Homo sapiens: one gene and its partners. The protein of the gene in region 2 interacts with the protein of the main gene of each other region in a pairwise test. Each region holds a gene or a part of one and is shown on either strand. Other genes may lie near its edges.

Region 1 (7,032 bases), on a different chromosome or scaffold from region 2:
GAGCACTTGTATGCGTTCCTACCTGACCTGGGGGCTCCTGAGAAGAGCGCCTGCCTTCTGGTGCTAGGCCCCAGCCAGGGCTGAAGGGCTCTGGCTCCTTAGGTCCCCAGGGACTCCCACAGGGCTAGGGCACAGAGTTGGGGCCAAGAGACCAGAAAATAGGCTGGGCTGGAACCAGAATCACAAGGGCTGGGTGAGGAGAGAGTGGCCACTCCCTGAGGGGACTTTGCCCTCCAGATTTGGGAACCCCTTCTCACTGGAACATACATGCACACACATGCACATACTATACACTGGGTACGGGGGTGGGAGGATACGTTATCCCATGCACATGCACGTTTCAAACACGTATACAGGCTGGGCGCGGTGGCTCACACCTGTAATCCCAGCAATCTGGGAGGCTGAGGTGGGCAGATAACCTGAGATCAGGAGTTCAAGACCAGCCTGGCCAACATGGTGAAACCCCGTCTCTACTAAAAATATAAAAATAAAAATAAAAATAAAAATTAGCCAGGCGTGGTGGCACACGCCTGTAGTCCCAGCTACTTGGGAGGTTGAGGCAGGAGAATCACTTGAACCCGGGAGGCAGAGGTTGCCGTGAGCCAAGATTGTGAGATCACACCACTGCACCCCAGCCTGGGCAACAGAGTGAGACTATCTCAAAAAATAAAATATGTATACACACATGCATACTCACCTCATCATGCATGCACGTTGCACATACACATACACCCCCAGACATTTAAAAACACATGTACAAATGCATATTAATTCCATCATGCACATGTGCCCACTTGTACATTTCCAAATACACATGCATGCACATGCACACTCAACTATGCATACACAGTAAACTCATGCACGCCTTCATTATATTCACACAGAAATGTGCCACACAGATGTGCACACCCAATATTAAAGTGCACACATTTGGCTACCGAGCTTACACACACATAAAACACATAAAGCACATGCACGCTCATAACCTGCACGCACCACCACATACACACACGCAACCCGCATTTGCGTGCACGCCTCCGCCGTGCTCCTGGCCCATCCCAGCAGGCCTCAGGCTGGCGTCTGGGGAGTGTGTTGGGTCGGCCAGTCCAGCACTGACCTCTGGTTGCAGAGCTGGCAGGCGAAGCAGTCGAGGTGATACACGTTGTCCCGGGCCCGCATCACCATCTCGAAGGCTGGGATCAGCTTGCTGCAAGCAGCACAGTTCCCTGTGGTGCCAAAGAGCCTGCCGAGGGAAGGGCGCAGAGGACTCAGCAGCATTCTGGGAAGCTGGGTGGGCAGGGGGAAAGGAGTTGCCTCCATCCAGGGTCCTTCCCATACTCCAACTTGTGGGCTCAGCAGGTGGGCTCAGGCAATAGGATAAGAGCACTGAGGGCAGCATCTAGATTCTGCCCAGAGATCAGGCTGCCAATAAATCAGCACATCCCCTTCCAGGGAGGGTGTGTAGGGGGTCAGGAGTTGGCTGCCACTGCCCATCCCAAGGCCCCCTCCCAGGCTCCCACAAGGGTCCTCAAGCCCTGGAGCCACCAAGAGAATCCTAGGCTGGGCCCTGAGCAAGCCTGAATTTCAGGGGCAGACTGAATCTTGGGTTGTGTGCCCTCAGGCAAGTCAGTGAGTCTCTCTGAGCCTCATTTACCTCATCTGTAAAACAAAGCCTGAAACACACCCTTTATGGGGTAGTTGTGAAACCTGTTGTAAATTCTCAGTCACAACTCACTAAGCAACCACCTAGGTAGTGTTCACTATGTGTCAGCCACTAATCTAAGAGCTTTACAAAGATAAACGCTTAATCCTCACAACAAACCTAGGAGGTGGTACTATTATTATTCCCCATTTTAAAGATTTAAAATATGAGTCACAGAGAAACAACTTGGACAGTCACAGGGCCTTGGTCCAGAAGGCGTGCTCTAAACCACTGCATGACATGCTTTTCCCACCTTTAACATTACAGTGTTTATTATTTGATTTTTAAAAATAGAGATGGGGTCTCACTATATTGGCCAGGCTGCTCTCGAACTCCTGGCCTCAACTGATCCTCCTGCCTTGGCCTCCCAAAGTGCTGGGACTACAGGTGTGAGCCACTGTGCCTTGCCAAAATTAAAGTGTTTTATTAAATCTTTTTTCCATGACAAACTCACTGTGTTACTTGCCTAAGTCCCTTTTTTTCTTTCTCTGAACCTCAGTTTATCCTTCTGTAAAATAGGGATGGATGATCCTATTCAAAGATGCTGTAAAACAGAACTGATGCCCAAAGGAAGCGCCAAGGACATCTGGCACAAATGCCTCTTTGAGGCAGGCACCCCTCCTCTTAGCTGCTGGCTGTAAAGCTCTAGGGACAGGGAGTTTACTCCCTCCCCATGCAGGCCAGCCCTTGGCTGGATGTCCCAATGGTCTGAGCCATCCCGGCTCCTCCTTGCTTCTTTCCTGCACACAGACAGAGCAAGCCCCAAGTGAGGCAAGGAGGCTGAGAAGAGGGTGGGGGGCCCCTTTAATCCCCGATTTGTCCAGCTCAAACTCAGGCGCCTGCAGATGAGCTTGGCTCCATTATTCATCAGCTTGAGCTGCCTGGTGGCTCAGATTAAGGCAGACAAAGGCTAGGCCACAGCATCTGCCTGCCAAGAGGGGCTTTTCTTGCCATCGGCCCAGGAACAGTTGCTGCAGAGGGCGCAGGCTCTGGACAGCCATTCTCCAGGCCTGAGCAGCTCAAGGAAGCCACGCTCGCATCCCAGCCCACTGGTCTAGCTGGTCCTACAGTCACTCCTTGCCTCTGCCAGAGCAAAAAAAAAAAAAAAAATTACCTTCCATCCCTAGTAGCTGGCAGGGCCCTATATGCTTGAGGGTGCTTTTTCCTGATAAGCCCATCCTACACTGTGGGCCTCTCTCTCCAAGTCCTGTGAACCCATCAGATGGTCTGCCACATCGTCCTAACCTGGTAGAGTCAGCCCCCAGGTGATGCCCTAAACCTCCAGACATGGAGGCCCCTTCTAGGTCCTCAAGGGGTGAATCCCCAGGAACATTCTTTTCTTTTTTGAGACAGGGTCTTGCTCTGGCACCCAAGCTGGAGTACAGTGGCGCAATCACAGCTCACTGCAGCCTCAAACATCTGGGCTCAAGCAATCCTTCCACTTCAGCCTCCTGAGTAGTTGGGACTACAGGCATGCAGCCACTACACCTGGCTAATTTTTTTTTTTTTTAGAAACGGGGTTTCACCATGTTGCCCAGGGTTGGTCTCGAACTCCTGAGCTGGAGTGACGTGCCTGCCTCGGCCTCCCAAAGTGCTGGAGTTACAGGCATAAGCCACCGCGCCTAGCCTGAACATTCTTCCTTAACCCCTGCTTCTGGTCTCAGCCTCTCCCCTCCAGCCCTGGCAAGGAGCACTAAGTCACAGCTTCTGTTTTACTGCATCACTTTTAAATGCAGGTGTTAAAAGGGGCAGGCAGGTCAGTCAAAGGATCTTTGGGGAATTGAGGGAGCTTCCACTGATAACCTCCCCCTTGCAACATGCCCAGACCTGGGCAGAGGGAGCCCCATGAAGCCCTTGCCCCGACCTGTTAATTAATGCGATGAGCCCTCCTTCCCCACAAGCCCGGCAACCATCCAGCAGCCTGCGACAGAGCCAAATGCAGGTGCTGGGTCTCAGCCAAGGCCCTGCTTTGTGGCCTCCTTCCAGCCTTGCTGATGTCATAAATGGCCTCAGGGAGGGTTAATTGGGGGAGGTGGCCCCAGGGAATAGGATCCAAATTGTAGGGAGGGTGAGTTAGAGCTCAGAGGAATGCAAGGCAGGGAAGCATCATTCTTTCACCCTTCACGGGGAAGTAAACTGAGGCTGGGAGAAGATTAGGAGCCAAAGGCTCACAGCTAGTTCCAACCCAGGTCTTGAAGCTCCAGCATCAGTGGCCCTGCTCCTAGGATATGGCTGCCTGCCAGTTTCCCTGGGCAAATGGATGCCTGCTCCCAAGGACCATCTAGAAAGGAAAGTTGGACACTGGGAGATGGAAAGAGACTGCATTAGGGAGGAGGGTCCTGGGGAAGTCAAAGCTTCCACACCTGTTCTCAAAGCCCCTCTGAGGTATCCCCTCCCAGATTCCAGATCAGGTGGGTCAGAAGCACCTGGCCAAGGCAGGGGGGCGGAGCCAGACTGGGGCCCTCGGAAAGCTTAACTTAGGGGCCCCAGGTTACAAATGCCTGCCCTGGACTTGTGCTGGGTACCGAGTCCAAGGGCATAACGACCTGGGCCTTCCCCTCAGGTGACTTCTCAGGTATCTGGGGCAAGCAGGGCAGGGGCAGGACAGTCAAGAATGAGAGGACACACAGGGTACTGGGTCTAGGGCCGGGGGCACAGTCACGCTGGGGCTGAGGATGGGGAGCTTTCTGAGCAGGACAAGGGCTTGGGAGGCCAGGGTTTGGCAGCCCACCTCAGGTAGTCGCGTCGGCACAGGATGAGGTTGGCCTTGGTGTAGAGGGTGGAGCCCACCTCGCCCAGGCGGCAGTCACAGCAGGCACACTTGAGGCAGTCTTCGTGCCAGTACTTGTCCAATGCCTTCAGCAGATAGCGGTCCTTGATCTTGCGGTTACAGCCCGCACAGCCCTTCTGCTTCCCTTTGGGCTGGACGGAGAGCATCGGCACGCCTGCAGACGGACAGACAGACAGCAACGCAGGATGGGCCCCGTAGCTCTGGGCCTCAAGGAATATCCCCCAAGAATGGGGAGCTCACTGCTTCTCTCTGCTGCCCCCTCTAGGTTTGGGGCTCCCAGGAGCCCTCGCTTTCTCCCCAATAACCTCCTCCCCTGGCTCCGGGTCCTGCCCTTTGGGCTACATGGCACAGCCTGTTTCCCTGGCCCTGTGAAGGTCCCTCCAGAGGCTGCTCTGCTCCAAGGCACACACAGACCCCAGGCCTGGCCTCCCTGAGTTGTTCCTCCCTACCATGGCCTCTATCCCCTGTGCGGTCTCATCCGGAGTAAGCCTGAAGCTCGTCTTGTGAAGCCACCATCACATTGGCTCTTTCAGCAATAAGCCTAAGAAATGTAGTCTCCTCAGGCCCACGAGGTCCTCTAGAACCCCCAGATCTTTGTGCCAACTCGTCTTTCTCCAGCTGAAGTGCTACAGCCTCTTGGTCTATCCATGTAGAGCTGTGATGGCATCAAGAAGGAAGTGAGACGCCCCTGGGACACTCCCAGGAGGGAGCAGAGGCTCTGGGGCTCCTGGCAGGTAAGCGGAGGCAGCTGGCAGGGCCTGGCTGGGGCTCCCCTTGGGAATGCTTCAGGCGGTGTCACACCTCACCTGCCCTGGCCTGGGGGAGGGCAGGCTCTGAGCCTCTGGATCCTTCCTCATTCTACCAGGATTAGGATCTCTCAGCCATCAGTCCCTCCCAGGGCCCATACCAGCTTCCCAACATACACACAGGCACCAAGTACAAAGGGCCCAATGTGATGTTCACCACAGGGCAGAGCCTCCCGTCGCGGCAGGCGAGCATGTGCGCTCACACACACCCCTCACACACAGGCACGACGTGCAGGTGTGGGCATGAAGTGACAGAGGCACGGGTTCCTAGTCCCTTCTCCTGGAACCACAGGGACCGTTGAGGAGGAGATGGGGACATATGTCGTCCAGTAGCCTGGACATCCATGTGGACCCGTGAGGCTGGGAGGGAAGTGCAGAGGACCTCAGAAGCCCTGCTCTGTGACTTGACAGGGCGGGAGCCTGTGGCAGTTGCCTGAGAACCCTTGTGAAGACAGGGAGCGTGTGCATGCTCCGTTCCTGACCAAGGCGCAGCTGGATAGGGGCCCACCCCTCCCCACCTCCCCGGCTTTCCAACACTCCCCTGGAGTCTGTCCTTCTACTGGCCCCGTCCTCTCCAAAGGACCCCTGCTCTCTCCAGGGCTCTGGCCTTCCTCCCATCCCCTGGTGTCCCTCCCATTCCCAGCCCTCCTCACTGCCCCCAGCCCAGAGTCTGAATGGTTGGGCTGCTTCCCTTCCTTTTGCTTCTCTCCTCCTTGGGCGTTAGGGGAGAACAAGCCACAAGAGGCCTTGGTCTCAGAATCCACAGATGTAAGGTCAGAAGAGCCCTCAGAGTTCTCCCAGTTAAATGTTCTCATACTACAGATGGGGAAATTGAGGCTCAGACAGTTACAGGGGCTTGAGTCAGCCACCGTCAAGCTGGCCCCAGGGCTCCTTCTCCTCTCCTGTGCTCGCTCTCAGCCCAGCTGGCTCCTCAGACTTCTCCTGGACAGGTGAGTCTGGGGAGCTGGCGCCCACCCACAGGCTACAGTGTGCAGGGCCAGTGGCTCCCTCCTCCTTCTCCTCCCTGCAGTCCCGGCAGGGCCTGTCTGTTAGCTGGTGAGTGTGCTGCCTAATTTCCTTAATGCAGCTCTAAAGGTTAATTGGTCTGAGAGAGGGATGGGGCACAGGATGACTCTGTCCTCGGGCCTGCCTGTGTCTCTTCTAGCAGGGCCCAGCCTGGCACAGAGCTCTGAAAGAGCCCAAGGAGGGCAGCTGGGGAGCAGATACCCCTGAGAACTGAAGGGGTCTTGTGAGGCTCCTTCCAAGTCCTGGCCTACAGGGAGGTGTGGGGAAATGGGAGAGGAGTTAAAATAGCTGGATGGGGAAATGAGGGGCCTCCCAGAGTGGGACCTGGACCAGGGTAGGGCTCCAAGGGCATGACCTTGTCCTTAGGCCCTGTGCAGGGAGCATGCAGCCAGCAGAGGTACGCACTCAAACACCGACTGGGAAAATCTTGGGCCAGGCCCCCGCTACAGCCCCTACAAGGCTCACGTTCCTTTTGCTCAGCCAGGCTTGCAGCAGGCCTGGCTCCCTTCCCAGTGGTCCTGAGCCCCTCCCAGGGCTCTATATTTGGGCTATTACCAGAACATGGGTGAATGGCTGGAACCTCCGTACTCAGGGGAGACCCTAGCCCACTAAATTATAGCCCAAAATGAAGGGAGACAGTGAGAGGCCCCAGCACGTGAAGCAGCTGTCCCACTCTCTCTTCCATCTACCCTGGCTCTTGGACAGGC
Region 2 (7,068 bases):
CAGACCTAGACAAAAAAACACCCTCAATTAGGGCAGAATGTAAGACTCCCATTTCCCAGTCCATACCCTTTTAGGTACACCTGTTGGGGCACAACATGCTCTTATTTTTATTAAAATTTGAAGTTCACTTAAGTTCACATATCCATTCTTTTGAACAGCTCTAATAACAGCTATTATTCACAAGTGCAAACACTGTCAAAGTACAAGACACTGTGCTAGATATACATTATGTCAAATTCTCAAAGTAGGCTTTGTCCAGAAATACTAAATACGGAAACACAATGAAAAGTGACTTGTCCAGAGCGACACCGCTAGTGAGAGGCAGAGATAGAATCCAACCCAGGTCTGCTTGGTTCCAAGGCACATGCTCTTTCCACTACACAGCACAGCACTTTCAAAGAATCTTAAAACTTTGCATGTGAAAGGAACCCTATCATAATAATGGCTGCCTTTTTAATGAAAATCTACAATGTGCCAGGTGCTTTACATACCTTACCTCATCTTCTTACAATAACCAATCAAGGGAAGTGATGGTATTACCGTTTATGGATAAGGAAATAAAAGAAGTCAATTGTCAAAGGCCACAGGCTAATAAATAACTAACCTGCGATTTAAACTGATGTCTGCTTAATTCAAGCCAAGAAAAATACTAAGATCAACTGAAAAACATCTACAAAAGACCCAGACAAAAATCACACAGGCAATCAGGTTAAGTAATAAATATCTAACCTGAGATTTAAACTGAGGTCTGTTTAATTTCAAGTTGATACTCTTTTGATCATGAGCTCAAAGAAATCAGAATGACCTCTGTGTACTCAATACTTCAATGGATGTCACTTCTAGAGGAAACTGCAATGGGCTAAGTATGGCTACAAGAAACTTACAGTGCCACCAGACTCACAGGATTTCAGGACTGGAAAATATTAGAGATCTGAGGGATGTACTCAGTTGCATTATTTTGCAGATGGGAAAACTGAAGCTCAGAGAGATTGCAAAACATTCATGTAAAAGGAGGATTTGAAGCAATGGAGACCAGCGCAAGGGCATTCCAGGTGAAGGGTATATTCTGAAGAAAAGCATAGAGGTAAAAATGATCATGCTTGAACTGTTAGCAATACAGGTAAAATGTACTATATAAGAAAGGAAAAAAATGAGGAATGCTGTCAAGTTATATGACCAAAGGACATTTCTTTTTAAAAAACAAAAATCTTAAAAAGGTTTTTTAGACAATTTTTCCATTTTAATAGAATACCTATCCCTGCTGTCACAGTTATTCCATCCAACCTTATCTAATACTTGATATGAATCTCTGTGCTGTGGCCACATTCTCTTTCGATTTTGTTTGCTGTTAGCACTGTGTCTGTACTAAAGCACGAGAATATGGATTTATACATTTTTTTCTAACCAATGTCTTCTCACTCAAAACTTATTTTGCTTTGTCTTTTAATTATTTTTCACTCTGAGTTGCGTACTGAAAGCCTAATGGCAAGAGTCTTAAAATCTCTGCATAAAACTTAAAGTTTACAGTAATTTTTTACTCCAAAGAGTACTAACTGAAACACAATAACTCAAAGAATACAGCCTCAGATATTTTATTACAAAATGTAGTACTACCATTAATTAGCATGATATAAAGAAATACTGGTCACAGACCAAAAACTGAGTTCGACAGTCTGAGTTTCTATGAAGAAAAGTTTAATAAATTATTCTCAAGGTAACAGTTTCAGAAGAAAAAGTTTTTAAACATTTTAAATATTTAAGAAGTTTTATTTCCTGGTAACAACTGTTAAAAATAATTTACAAATGTAATTTATTTACGCTGGTTGATAACAGAAAAAAATATATAAATTATTATAAAACTTTCTGAAGTCAAAATTGCTTTATTTACTAGGTTCAGGCATCATACGTCCAAAAATGTGAGGCTCCAAATTCAGGCGCAGCGGAGAGTGTGTTAATGAAGTTAGTGCTGGTATACTGACACCCTAGAGAAAAACCAGGTTTTCAGTTTATGTATCAGGTGCATGCAAAGGGCATTAAAAAAAAAGTGCTCTACAACGTTGGTCAGAAATGACTACATTACTTCTACTGGTATGAAAAACTGCAAACCCATCTCAGCCCCTATCAGACTGGCAGACACTAGTCCTGAAGCAACTGGGCCTAATCCAAAACTTCGGCGCAGCAGGTCACAGAGGAGGCGCCTGGGAAAGAGGAGATATCAAGTGAAAGTGAAGCAGGGAGAAGCCAGAAGCCGCCCCAGGCAGGTCAGAAAAGACTGTGGGGCTGGGAGGGAGGATGACAGGGTGTGGGGAGTGGGTGGGAGGAGGGGGTGTTATCAGAGGGAGAGCACTAAATGACACAAAGCAAAGGCAATCCTTAAAATGCCAATTCACCCTGGGAGACAGGGTGTGCACAGTGGAAAAGCAGGGTTTGGGTCCTGAACCCAGGAAAACCATTTCACAGACAAGTACACCGAGGTATGGGTTTCAAATACGGTCCTGCAACAAGGGAGCAGTACAGTTACGAGTAGACTGTGAGCCCTTGCAGGGTATAATTCAACCTGGCATTCCCCGCCCGCCCCAGCAGTGCCTAGCACTTGGCACAACCAGGAACTATCTCTGAATGAATGTCCCACGTCTTGAAACTCTAGGCTTCTTCCCAGACACCTGGGCTTCTGGCCTTAATACGCTAGGGTCCAGGACGGGAGAAACCCAGGCTGAGCGGGTCCGGAGAAGATGGGGCCTTGGGGTCCGAGTCCAACCACTGGCCCTCCGCCCGTCCACGGGCACTCACCCGGATGCCCTTCACCACGGTGATGTTCTCATTCTCGTCCGCCTCGAAGGTGACCCGGCGGGTGCTGGTGGTCCCACCCATGATTCCGGTTCCTGCCCCAGCGGAGACCTAGCGGGGAACCACGAGCACTTCGGGGCCCCCGCACCCACACGCGCGTGGAAGGGCCTGGATTCTTTTCCCGCACAGCGGGAGCAAGGCCACGACCCCCAGAAGCAAGGAGAAGGCGCCGGTCCTGAGCTCCCGCCTCCTCCGGTCACGCGCCACAACAAAAACGCCTCAGGTTGGTCGGCGATGCGAACTGCCCGCCTCTGTTCGGCGAGGGCGCCCGGATTGGTTCACCCGACCCGGATGCTATGGCAACAGGTGGTGTTTGATAGCTTTCCGCGGAGTCCCTGGGTGTAGTGGGAACTGTGGTCTCGATCTGGCGCGGTGGGTGATGGGACATTCTCTCCCCGCGCCTGAGCGCGCTAAGGGAGCACGGCATTCTGGGAGTTGTGGTTTTGACTCCCCAGAGACGCCTAACTGGGCAACTTTTTGAAGACATAATTCTAGAAATTTAGGCCACTAAGTTCAGAGACACAATCTTTCTCTCAAAGGGACTCACAGTTTAATGAAAAAGATGCATGATACTAATGAAGCCATTCCTAGTGTTCTATACACAAATTCCTGGCTCAAAACTTAGCGTTTCATTACAGTCGTAGGGTAGCTTAATGAAGACTACTTCTGAGAAATGCCTCGTTAGGTGACCCTGTGATATCTGTGGTTGTGCAAACATCATAGAGTGTACTTACACAAACCCAGATGGTGTAGCCTACTACACACCTGGGCTACTTGGTGTAACCTATTGCTCCCAGGCTGCAAAGATGTACAGCATGTCACTGTACTAAATACTGTAGGCAATTGTAACACAGTGGTATTTGTGTGTACAAATATATGTAAACATAGAAAAGCTACAGCAAAAACAGTGTAAAAGTGATTGCTTTGGCAACACATCTAGGACAATTTGAACAATACAGAGATTAGCACAGCCCCTGAGCAAGGTTGACACATGAATTTCTGAAGCATTCCATTAAAAAAAAAATCAAAGATAAAAAATGGTATGCTTCTATAGGGCACTTACCATGAATGGAGCTTACAGGACTGGAAGTTGCCCTGAGTGAGTCAGTGAGTGAGTGGGGAGTTGAATGTGAAGGCCTGGGACGCAACTATGCAGTACTGTACCTTTTATCAACACTGTGCACTTAGGCAACACTAAATTTATTTTCATATATTTTCATTCTTCAAGAATAAATTGACCTTAGCTTACTGTAACTTTTTAAACTTATAAACTTCTTTTTTTGTGACTTTTTGACTCTTTAATAACACTTAGCTTAAAACACAAACACACTATATAGCTGTACAAAAATATTTCTTTCTTTATATACTTAGTCTATAAGCTTTTTCTATTTTTGAAATTATTTACTTTTTACTTTTTAAACATTTTTGTTAAAAATTAAGACAAACACACACACATTAGCCTAGACCTACACGGGGTCAGGATCATCAATATCACTGTCTTCCACCTTCACATCTTGTCCCACTGAAAGGTCTTCAGAGGCAATAACACGTATGGAGCTATCTCCTATGATAACAGCACCTTCTGTAACACCTCCTGAAGGACCTGCCTGAGGCTGTTTTACAGTTAACTTTTTTATATAGGTAGAAAGAATGCACTTTAACCTAAAGATAAAAAGCATAGTATAGTAAATACTAGGAGACAGGAATTTTCCAGCTCCATTATAATCTTATGATTCCACTGCCAGAAATGAGGTTCTTCTTTGACTGAAACACTGTTATGCAGTACATGAATGGTGGCATTTTAGTAGTAGCCATAAAATAAAAAAATAAAAAACGTAAACGTGTGTTTGGTCCATGTCTCTTGTCTCATGAACTAGTATCTGTATTTTTTTCTTTTTGTAAAGTAAAATTTTAAGTACTATGGTTTTCAAACCTGTCTATGAGAAAATACATTTCTTCATAGAATAAATTATTTGCACCAAGTATGTAGAGAATTTACTTTCCACTTTTGTGTCTCCTTCTACTACTAGTTCAGTTACATAAGTTAGGCCATAATAGGGTTAGGCAGAGAAAAGTTAAGTGATTGCCAAAGATGGCATAAATTAGTGGAGGAATTAAAACTACATCAGAAAAGTTGAGATGATCTATTGTGGAAAGTTCCTATTAATAGTTCAACATTTCACCTCTACGAGACCAGTACATAGTTATTAGGTTATTCATCTACATATTTCTTTTTTGCTAAACACACTGTTACACATAAGTTTAGCCATATGACCTTAGTTTTACAGAGGCAGATGATTCTCAATAGAAATTAGGTTAATGATGGTACTATTCTTCAATTAATCCCTCTCAACATTAAAAGCAGCAGGCCACAACACACCATGGCATTCTCTTATGCCAAAGGCATCTACAATGCAGTCGCATTTTTGAGCTTCAATTATGTGCTGATCTATTACTGTATGAATCCAATTATGTGCTGATCTATTACTGTATGTATCTTTTATTTTTCTGAGACAGAGTCTCGCTCTGTCGCCAGGCTGGAGTTCAGTGGCGCAATCTTGGCTCACTGCAACCTCCGCCTCCCAGGTTCAAGCAATTCTCCTGCCTCAGCCTCCGGAGTAGCTGGGACTACAGGTGCGTGTCACCACACCCAGCTAATTTTTTTGTATTTTTAGTAGAGATGGGGTTTCACCATGTTGGCCAGGATGGTCTCCATCTCCTGACCTCATGATCCTCCCACCTCAGCCTCCCAAAGTGCTGGGATTATAGGCGTGAGCCACCGCTCCCAACCTTACTGTATGAATCTTTAGAGCAGAAACTATGTCTTTTTAATCTCTATATCCCTGGTCAGTAGCAGAGTGTTGATTACATCTCATCATTATATTCTTTTAAAATTGTACTATGTTACTTTGCAGTTATGAGACTACGTGCTACTTTGTACTTGTTCTCAAGTTTCCTTCTTTTTTCTTTTTTTTTTTTTGAGAGAGAGAGGGTCTTGCTTTGTTGCCTAGGCTAGAATGCAGTGGCCCAATCACGACTCACTGCAGCCCCAACCTCCCAGGTTCAAGCAATCCCTCCCAGTTCAGCCTCCCCAGTAGCTGTGACTACAGGTGTGTGCCACCACACCTAGCTGTGGTCTCACTATGCTGCCCAGGCTGGTCTCAAACTCCTGAGCTCAAGCAACCTTTCTGCCTTAGCCTCCCAAAGTGCTGGGATTACAGGCATGAGCCACCATGCCCAGCCTAACTCTTTCTTCTACTGGGAACTAAAGCTCCAAGGAATTATGACTTTCATTTTTTGGGGACCCTCCCCTCCACAAACACACTCTCACTTATTACCCCAATATATAGGGCATATCGGAGGTTCTATATAACACACATGCTCAACAAGCACTTACGAAAATAACCAAGTACAAAGAAAGCGTTCCTTGGAGAGAATAGAGAGATGAAGAAACCACTAGTTGTCTTAAATATATATATATATATCTCCAGTTAGAATATTAAGTAGAGTTCTTTCAACCAAATATATTAAAGATGATGAATGCCAAGCATGAGAAGGTAGTGGAGTGCCTTCATGTTTTATGATTCAAACACATATAAGTGGTCTAATCAAACAGACAATCCAAAAATGTTTTAGACATCCTAATGCATTTTAACCAACATTACAAAGATGCCTTCTGAGTTTAAAAAAAATTCAATGTATTCTTTAAAACAAAATGCCTTCTCTAACAATACTGTTCTATCCATGTCAATTTCTAGGCCAGTCATGCCTATACAATCCCTTCTTGAGCTACCCAGAACTTGTGGCCTCCCTTTCTTTCTGGCTACAGCTTATTAATAGTCATCTAATCCAAAGGCAGCATTTACTAGCCAGACACCTATGAGCTAGAATGCAAAGCTTTGCCCTAAGAAAAATAATAGCTAATACTTCAGCTACTCAGATTCTCCATGTTTTTCTCCGTTTTCTGTATCTCTGTATTCACTTTCTCAAATTTAAACTTGAAAATTCAGAGCATACAAAAAGATAGCAAGAAGAGAAGTTATAACACTGAGTCTGTACCATGAAGAATCATGGCAAACTAAAGATAGGTGGAATAAGAAACTGCAAGAAAAATAAAAGGCATCCAGACTGGAAAGGAAGAAGTAAAACTACCTCTATTCGAAGATAACATGATCTTACAAATAGAAAAATCTTACAGAATCCACTGCAAAACTAATTAGA
Region 3 (7,032 bases), on a different chromosome or scaffold from region 2:
CAAGACAGGGATGCCCTCTCTCACCACTCCTATTCAACAGAGTGTTGGAAGTTCTGGCCAGGGCAATCAGGCAAGAGAAAGAAATAAAGGGTATTCAATTAGGAAAAGAGGAAGTCAAATTGTTCCTGTTTGCAGATGACATGATTGTATATTTAGAAAACCCTATCCTCTCAGCCCAAAATCTCCTTAAGCTGATAAGCAACTTCAGCAAAGTCTCAGGATACAAAATCAATGTGCGAAAATCACAAGCATTCTTATACACCAATAACAGACAAACAGAGAGCCAAATCATGAGTGAACTCCCATTCACAATTGCTTCAAAGAGAATAAAATGCCTAGGAATCCAACTTACAAGGGACATGAAGGACCTCTTCAAGGAGAACTACAAACCACTGCTCAATGAAATAAAAGAGGACACAAACAAATGGAAGAACATTCCATACTCATGGGTAGGAAGAATCAATATTGTGAAAATGGCCATACTGCACAAGGTAATTTATAGACTCAATGCCATCCCCATCAAGCTACCAATGACTTTCTTCACAGAATTGGAAAAAATTACTTTAAAGTTCATATGGAACCAAAAAAGAGTCTGCATTGCCAAGACAATCCTAAGCCAAAAGAACAAAGCTGGAGGCATCACGCTACCTGACTTCAAACTATAGTACAAGGCTACAGTAACCAAAACAACATGGTACTGGTACCAAAACAGAGATATAGACCAATGGAACAGAACAGAGCCCTCGGAAATAATACCACACATCTACAACCATCTGATCTTTGACAAACCTGAGAAAAACAAGCAATGGGGAAAGGATTCCCTATTTAATAAATGGTGCTGGGAAAACTGGCTAGCCATATGTAGAAAGCTGAAACTGGATCCCTTCCTTACACCTTATACAAAAATTAATTCAAGATGGATTAAAGACTTAAATGTTAGACCTAAAACCATAAACACCCTAGAAGAAAACCTAGGTAATACCATTCAGGACATAGGCATGGGCAAGGACTTCATGACTAAAACACCAAAAGCAATGGCAACAAAAGCCAAAATTGACCAATGGGATGTAATTAAACTAAAGAGCTTCTGCACAGCAAAATAAACTACCATCTGAGTGAACAGGCAACCTACAGAATGGGAGAAAATTTTTACAATCTACCCATCTGACAAAGGGCTAATATCCAGAATCTACAAAGAACTTAAACAAATTTACAAGAAAAAATAAAACAACCCCATCAAAAAGTGGGCGAAGGATATGAACAGACACTTCTCAAAAGAAGACATTTATGCAGCCAACAGATACGTGAAAAAATGCTCATCATCACTGGCCATCAGAGAAATGCAAATCAAAACCACACATCTCATGCCAGTTAGCATGGAGATCATTAAAAAGTCAGGAAACAACAGGTGCTGGAGAGGATGTGGAGAAATAGGAATGCTTTTACACTGTTGGTGGGAATGTAAACTAATTCAACCATTGTGGAAGACAGTGTGGTGATTCCTCAAGGATCCAGAACAAGAAATACCATATGACCCAGCCATCCCATTACTGGGCATATACCCAAAGGATTATAAATCATGCTGCTATAAAGTCACATGCACACATATGTTTATTGCGGCACTATTCACAATAGCAAAGACTTGGAACCAACCCAAATGTCCAACAATGATAGACTGGATTAAGAAAATGTGGCACATATACACCATGGAATACTATGCAGCCATAAAAAATGATGAGCTCATGTCCTTTGTAGGGACATGGATGAAGCTGGAAACCATCATTCTGAGCAAACTATCGCAAGGACAGAAAACCAAACACTGCATATTCTCACTCATAGGTGGGAATTGAACAATGAGAACACTTGGACACAGGGTGGGGAACATCACATACTGGGGCCTGTCATAGGGTGGGGGGTGTGGGGAGGGATACCACTAGGAGATATACCTAATTGAATGACAAATTAATGGGTACAGCACACCAACATGGCACATGTATACATATGCAACAAACCTGCACGTTGTGCGCATGTACCCCATAACTTAAAGTATAATAATAAAATAAATAAATAAATAAACTAGGTATTAAAGGAACACACCTCAAAATAATCAGAGCCATCTATGAAAAACCCACAGCCAACATTATATTGAACAGGGAAAAGCTGGAAGCATTCCTCTTGAAAACTGACACAAGAAAAGGATGCCCTCTTCCACAACTTCTATCCAAGACAATATTGGAAGTCTTGGCCAGAACAATCAGTCAAGAGAAAGAAATGAAGGACATCCAAGTAGGAAGAGAGAAAGTCAAACTATCCCTGTTTGGAGAAAACATGATTCTATATCTAGAAAACTCCAGAGCCTCATCCCAAAAACTCCTTAAGTTAATAAACAACTTCGGCAAAATTTTAGGACACAAAATCAACATACAAAAATCACTAGCACTCCTATACACCAACAACAGCCAAGCTGAGAGTAAAATCAGGAACACAATCCCATTTACAACTGTCACAAAAAGAATAAGATACCTAGGAATACAGCTAACCAGGGAGATGAAAGATCTCTACAATGAGAATTACAAAACACTGCTTAAGGAAATCAGAGATAACACAAGCAAATGAAAAAACATTACATGCTCATGGATACGAAAAATCAATATCTTTACAGTCACCATACTGCCCAAAGCAATGTACAGATTCAATGCTATTCCTATCAAATTGCCAGTGACACTCTTCACAGAACTAGAAAAAAATACTTTAAAATTCAATGGTACCCAAAAAGAGCCTGAATAGTCAAGGCAATTCTAAGCAAAAGAACAAAGCTGGAGGCATCATGTTACCTGCCTTCAAACTATACTACAGGGCTACAGTAACCAAAACAGTACAGTACTGGTACAAAAACAGACACATAGACCAATGGAATAGAATAGGGAGCTCAGAAATAAGGCTACACACCTATAATTATGTGATCTTCAACAAAGTTGACAAAAATAAGCAATGGGGAAAGGTGCTGGGATAACCTGCTAGCCATATGCTAGCCATATATCTTACACCAGATATAAAAATCAACTCAAGATAGATAAAAGACTTAAATGTAAAACCCAAAACTATAAACACCCTGGAAGACAACCAAGGCAACACTATTCTAAACATAGGAATGGGCAAAGATTTCATGACAAAGACACCAAAAGCAATCACAACAAAAGCAAAAATTGACAAATGGTATCTAATTAAACGTAAGAGCTTCCGCAGAGCAAAAGAAAGCATCAACAGAGTAAAAAGACTATCTAAAGAATGGGAAAGAAATATTTGCAAACTATGCATCTGACAAAGGTCCAATATGCACCATCTATAAGAAACTTTAATTTACAAGAAAAAAAGCAAAGAACCCCATTAAAAAGTGGGCAAAGGACATGAACAGACACTTCTCAAAAGAAGACATACACATGGCCAATAACCATATGAAAAAAAAGCTCAACATCACTATCATTAGAGAAATGCAAATCAAAACCACAATGAAATATCATCTCACACCAGTCAGAATGGCTATTATTAAAAAGTAAAAAAATAACAGGTGCTGTCAAGGTTGTGGAGAAAAAGAAATGTTTATACACTGGTGATGAGAGTATAAATTAGTTCAACCATTGTAGAAAGCAGTGTAGTGATTCCTAAAAGACCTGAAAACAGAACTACCATTTGACCTAGGAATCTCATTATTGGGTATATACCCAAAGGAATATAAATCATTCTGCCATAAAGACATACCCGCAAGTATGTTCATCGCAGCACTATTCATAATAGCAAAGACATGGAATCAACCTGAATGCCCATCAATGGTAAACTGGAAAAAGAAAATGTGATACATATACACATACATATACATATACATGAAGGTGCCAGATTTTTTGCATTTTTGTGTTTTTTGTTGGTGATTTTGCTGTTTAAAGGGTCCCAGTGCCTAGTGATGAAGTGCTATTTAGTGTTCCTAAGCACAAGAAGGCTGTAACACACCTCATGGAGAAAATGCATGTCTTAGATAAGCTTTGTTCAGACGTGAGTTATAGTGCTGTTGGGTGTGAGTTTAATGTTAATGAATCAACCGTATATATTAAATAAGGTGTCTTTAAACAGAAACATACATGAATCAAACTTATGTATTGATCAGTTGACAAAAATGTGGCCAGAGATTAGTGGGAACCTAACCCTGTATTTCCTCTAAGACTAGTGGTTCAGTATTCACTAATTCAGTGTTTGTGGTGACTTTATAGTCCTAATTACTGTCAATAATGAGAACCGACTATAAATAGATTAGGTCAAACGCTCAGTGATTAACTTGCAAATGTTCAAATTGCCCATAAAAACACAACTGTAAAAATAATTGTTATGAAAACACAACTGTAAAAATAATTGTTAATACATTTATGTTTAGATAACATTTTATCATTTCTCACTGTTGGTACAATTGTGAAACTGCCTATGATATATAAGACCTCAGACACCTAAAAAGCAAAGAGATAAAAATATGTTGGAACGGGAGAATATCTCAAAGATGGTCTAGCACCTCTACTTTTGAAGCTATTTTTCTCTATTGCTTTGGAATGGCACTGATGCCATGGCTCCTTTCTTTACTTCCTTCAGGCCTCTATTCATATGTCATCTTATCACTGAGGCATTCTCTGATCCGCCTCTATAAAGAGCCCCTCAACTTCCATTCCCTTTACTCAGCTTTATTTTCCTCCATTGCTGTTATCATCATCTGACATATAACCAATCTATTTATTTGCTATTGCTTATCTCCTCCAACAAGATTGGAACCTCTATAGGGGCAAGTACCTATAACATGCAAGGAAAGGAGAAATGGTGCACTATTAGCTTGTCATAGTCATCTGAAAAATATCAAGTACCTTCCTGAAAACATCTGGCACCTAGAACAGTGCATGGAACAAAGCAGGCATGCAAATAAATATCTGTTAAACAAACTACTAAATGAAAACAATAATGGATTCATAGGAGCTCAGTGCATGGTAAAAATTAGTCACATATGGCACTAGGTATCCTGGAATAGGGACATAAAATACTTCAGAAACTATATCTTTGCTGCTAGAAATATTTTTTTAACTAAGACAAATTTGGAATTGACTTCCTAATTCCTACACTTTGTAGTAAAGAAAGGCCACCTATATCCTCTATGCATGTAACTTTAATAAAAGTTTCCTTTGTATTAAAAAATCCAAACTTACGAAATAGAGGACTTTTTACATATAGAAGAGGTTTTTTCATTTAAAAATGGTTTCATTTCAGAAATTCTTTAGATGGTAAGCTTTCCTAGAATATAGCAAGTATCATTTACCAAAAATATATGAGCTACACAAAAAATTTTAGGCTCATATCTGCTAATAGAAGTAGTGCTATTTTTGTAAACTCACACTTAAGATAAAACGTTTAATCCCTCTTCCATACTTACATCCCAGCAGGGATGCTATTCCCCTACTCCCTGTTTGAACTGCCATTTTAACCTGGTTTCTTACCAAATTATTCAGCTATGATGAGAGTTTGATTTTGAGTGAATAAGTATTAATATCATTCTGAAAAAATTATGTTACTATTAGTGTTGGCACATATTAGCACATACACACATGCAAATACCTAGCCATTCATAATAATTCATGCAGGACAGATTACCAATGTCCTCCCCTTACCCTAATAAATGAAATGTATCCTTCTATAAATTAGAATGATGCCTCAGACCCCACAACTTTCAAAAATATATGCTATACCTGTGTGAATTGGTCACAGTCAACAACGCGGAAAGTTTTGCCATAAATTGTGATGTTTATTCCTCGATTTAGGTCTTTCCAATGGTAATGGTCACCCCGGTCATTCTTGGCTAGCCGCTGGCGTTTTATTAACTTGCCTTGAAGGATTCCAGAATTTTCTACAACAGGCTCTATGACAGACATGCTGTCATCTTCTAGATAATAGTAAATGTTCACCTGACGGATCCTATACTGTTCCTCAGTTGACATAGGAACATCTTCTTGGAAATAGGCATCAAATTTCAGTACCTATAACATACAAGGAAAGGAGAAATGGTGTACTATTAGCTTGTCATAGTCATCTGAAAAATATCAAGTACCTTCCTGAAAACAGAACCACACAGGGAGATTTTAACACTCATCACTTCTATCCTGTAAATCTTGATACTCTAAAACTACAGATACTGCAAACTATAGTCCATGGGACAAATCTAACCTGCCACCTGTTTTTTTTATGACCTGCAAGCTAAGAGTGGGTTTTACATATTTAAATGGTTTAAAAAATTTTAAAAAATGTTTCATAACACATGGAAATTATAAAAATTTAAATTTTCAATCCACAAATAATTATGTAAATAATTTACGCTTTTTTGTTAACAGCTGCTCTCCCATTACAAGGGAAGAGTTGAATAGTTGTGACAGAGATACACAGACTAAATTGTGTCCCCCTCATCCCCAAAATTCATATGTTGAACCCCTAACCCTCAATGTGACTATATTTGGAGACAGGATCCTTAGGAGGTAATTAAGGTTAAACCAGATCTTAAGGATAGAGGTATGCCACCTTTAAGTCTAATCCCATAGAACTGGTTGCCTTAGAAGAGAAGAAGAGAAAGAGAGTTACTTCCCTCCCCTAACTCCCACATGTACACACCAAGGTAAGGCCACATGAAGACATAGCAAGAAGACCGCTGTATGCAAGCCAGGAAGAGAGCCCTCACCAGAATTCAAACCAGCTGGCACCTTGATCTTGGACCTCCAACCTCCAGAACTGTGAGAAAATAAATTCTATTATTTAAACCACTCAATCTGTGGTATTTTGTTGTGGCAGACTACGCAGGCTAAAACCACTGCAATGGCCAAAATATACGCTAACTGCCCTTTACAGAAAAAGTTTGCTGACATCTGCTTTAAATACTCACAATGTGTATAAACTATTTATTGCATATGTTCCTTGGTGAGAATACATCTTAAAGGACTTAACTCTACTAGCTTCACCTCC

The links. The genes of interacting proteins can lie anywhere in the genome.
Region 1: the proteins of CHCHD3 (region 2) and LMO1 interact in binary tests that used the Homo sapiens proteins (3 or more experiments, as listed by UniProt).
Region 3: the proteins of CHCHD3 (region 2) and EFHC1 interact in binary tests that used the Homo sapiens proteins (3 or more experiments, as listed by UniProt).

What each region holds. Positions count from the first base shown.
Region 1 is NC_000011.10:8,225,858-8,232,889, forward strand, and holds part of LMO1 (rhombotin-1), read right to left. Parts: exon of another isoform or gene 7,015-7,032; intron 6,250-7,014; exon of another isoform or gene 6,122-6,249; intron 5,228-6,121; exon of another isoform or gene 5,112-5,227; intron 4,648-5,111; coding exon 4,434-4,647; intron 4,422-4,433; exon of another isoform or gene 3,704-4,421; coding exon of another isoform or gene 3,567-3,703; intron 1,244-3,566; coding exon 1,118-1,243; exon of another isoform or gene 997-1,117; intron 1-996. UniProt on the Homo sapiens protein: May be involved in gene regulation within neural lineage cells potentially by direct DNA binding or by binding to other transcription factors.
Region 2 is NC_000007.14:133,079,067-133,086,134, forward strand, and holds the start of CHCHD3 (MICOS complex subunit MIC19), read right to left. Parts: upstream 3,025-7,068; 5' UTR 2,872-3,024; coding exon 2,791-2,871; intron 1-2,790. UniProt on the Homo sapiens protein: Component of the MICOS complex, a large protein complex of the mitochondrial inner membrane that plays crucial roles in the maintenance of crista junctions, inner membrane architecture, and formation of contact sites to the outer membrane.
Region 3 is NC_000006.12:52,437,331-52,444,362, reverse strand, and holds part of EFHC1 (EF-hand domain-containing protein 1), read right to left. Parts: intron 6,060-7,032; coding exon 5,772-6,059; intron 1-5,771. UniProt on the Homo sapiens protein: Microtubule inner protein (MIP) part of the dynein-decorated doublet microtubules (DMTs) in cilia axoneme, which is required for motile cilia beating.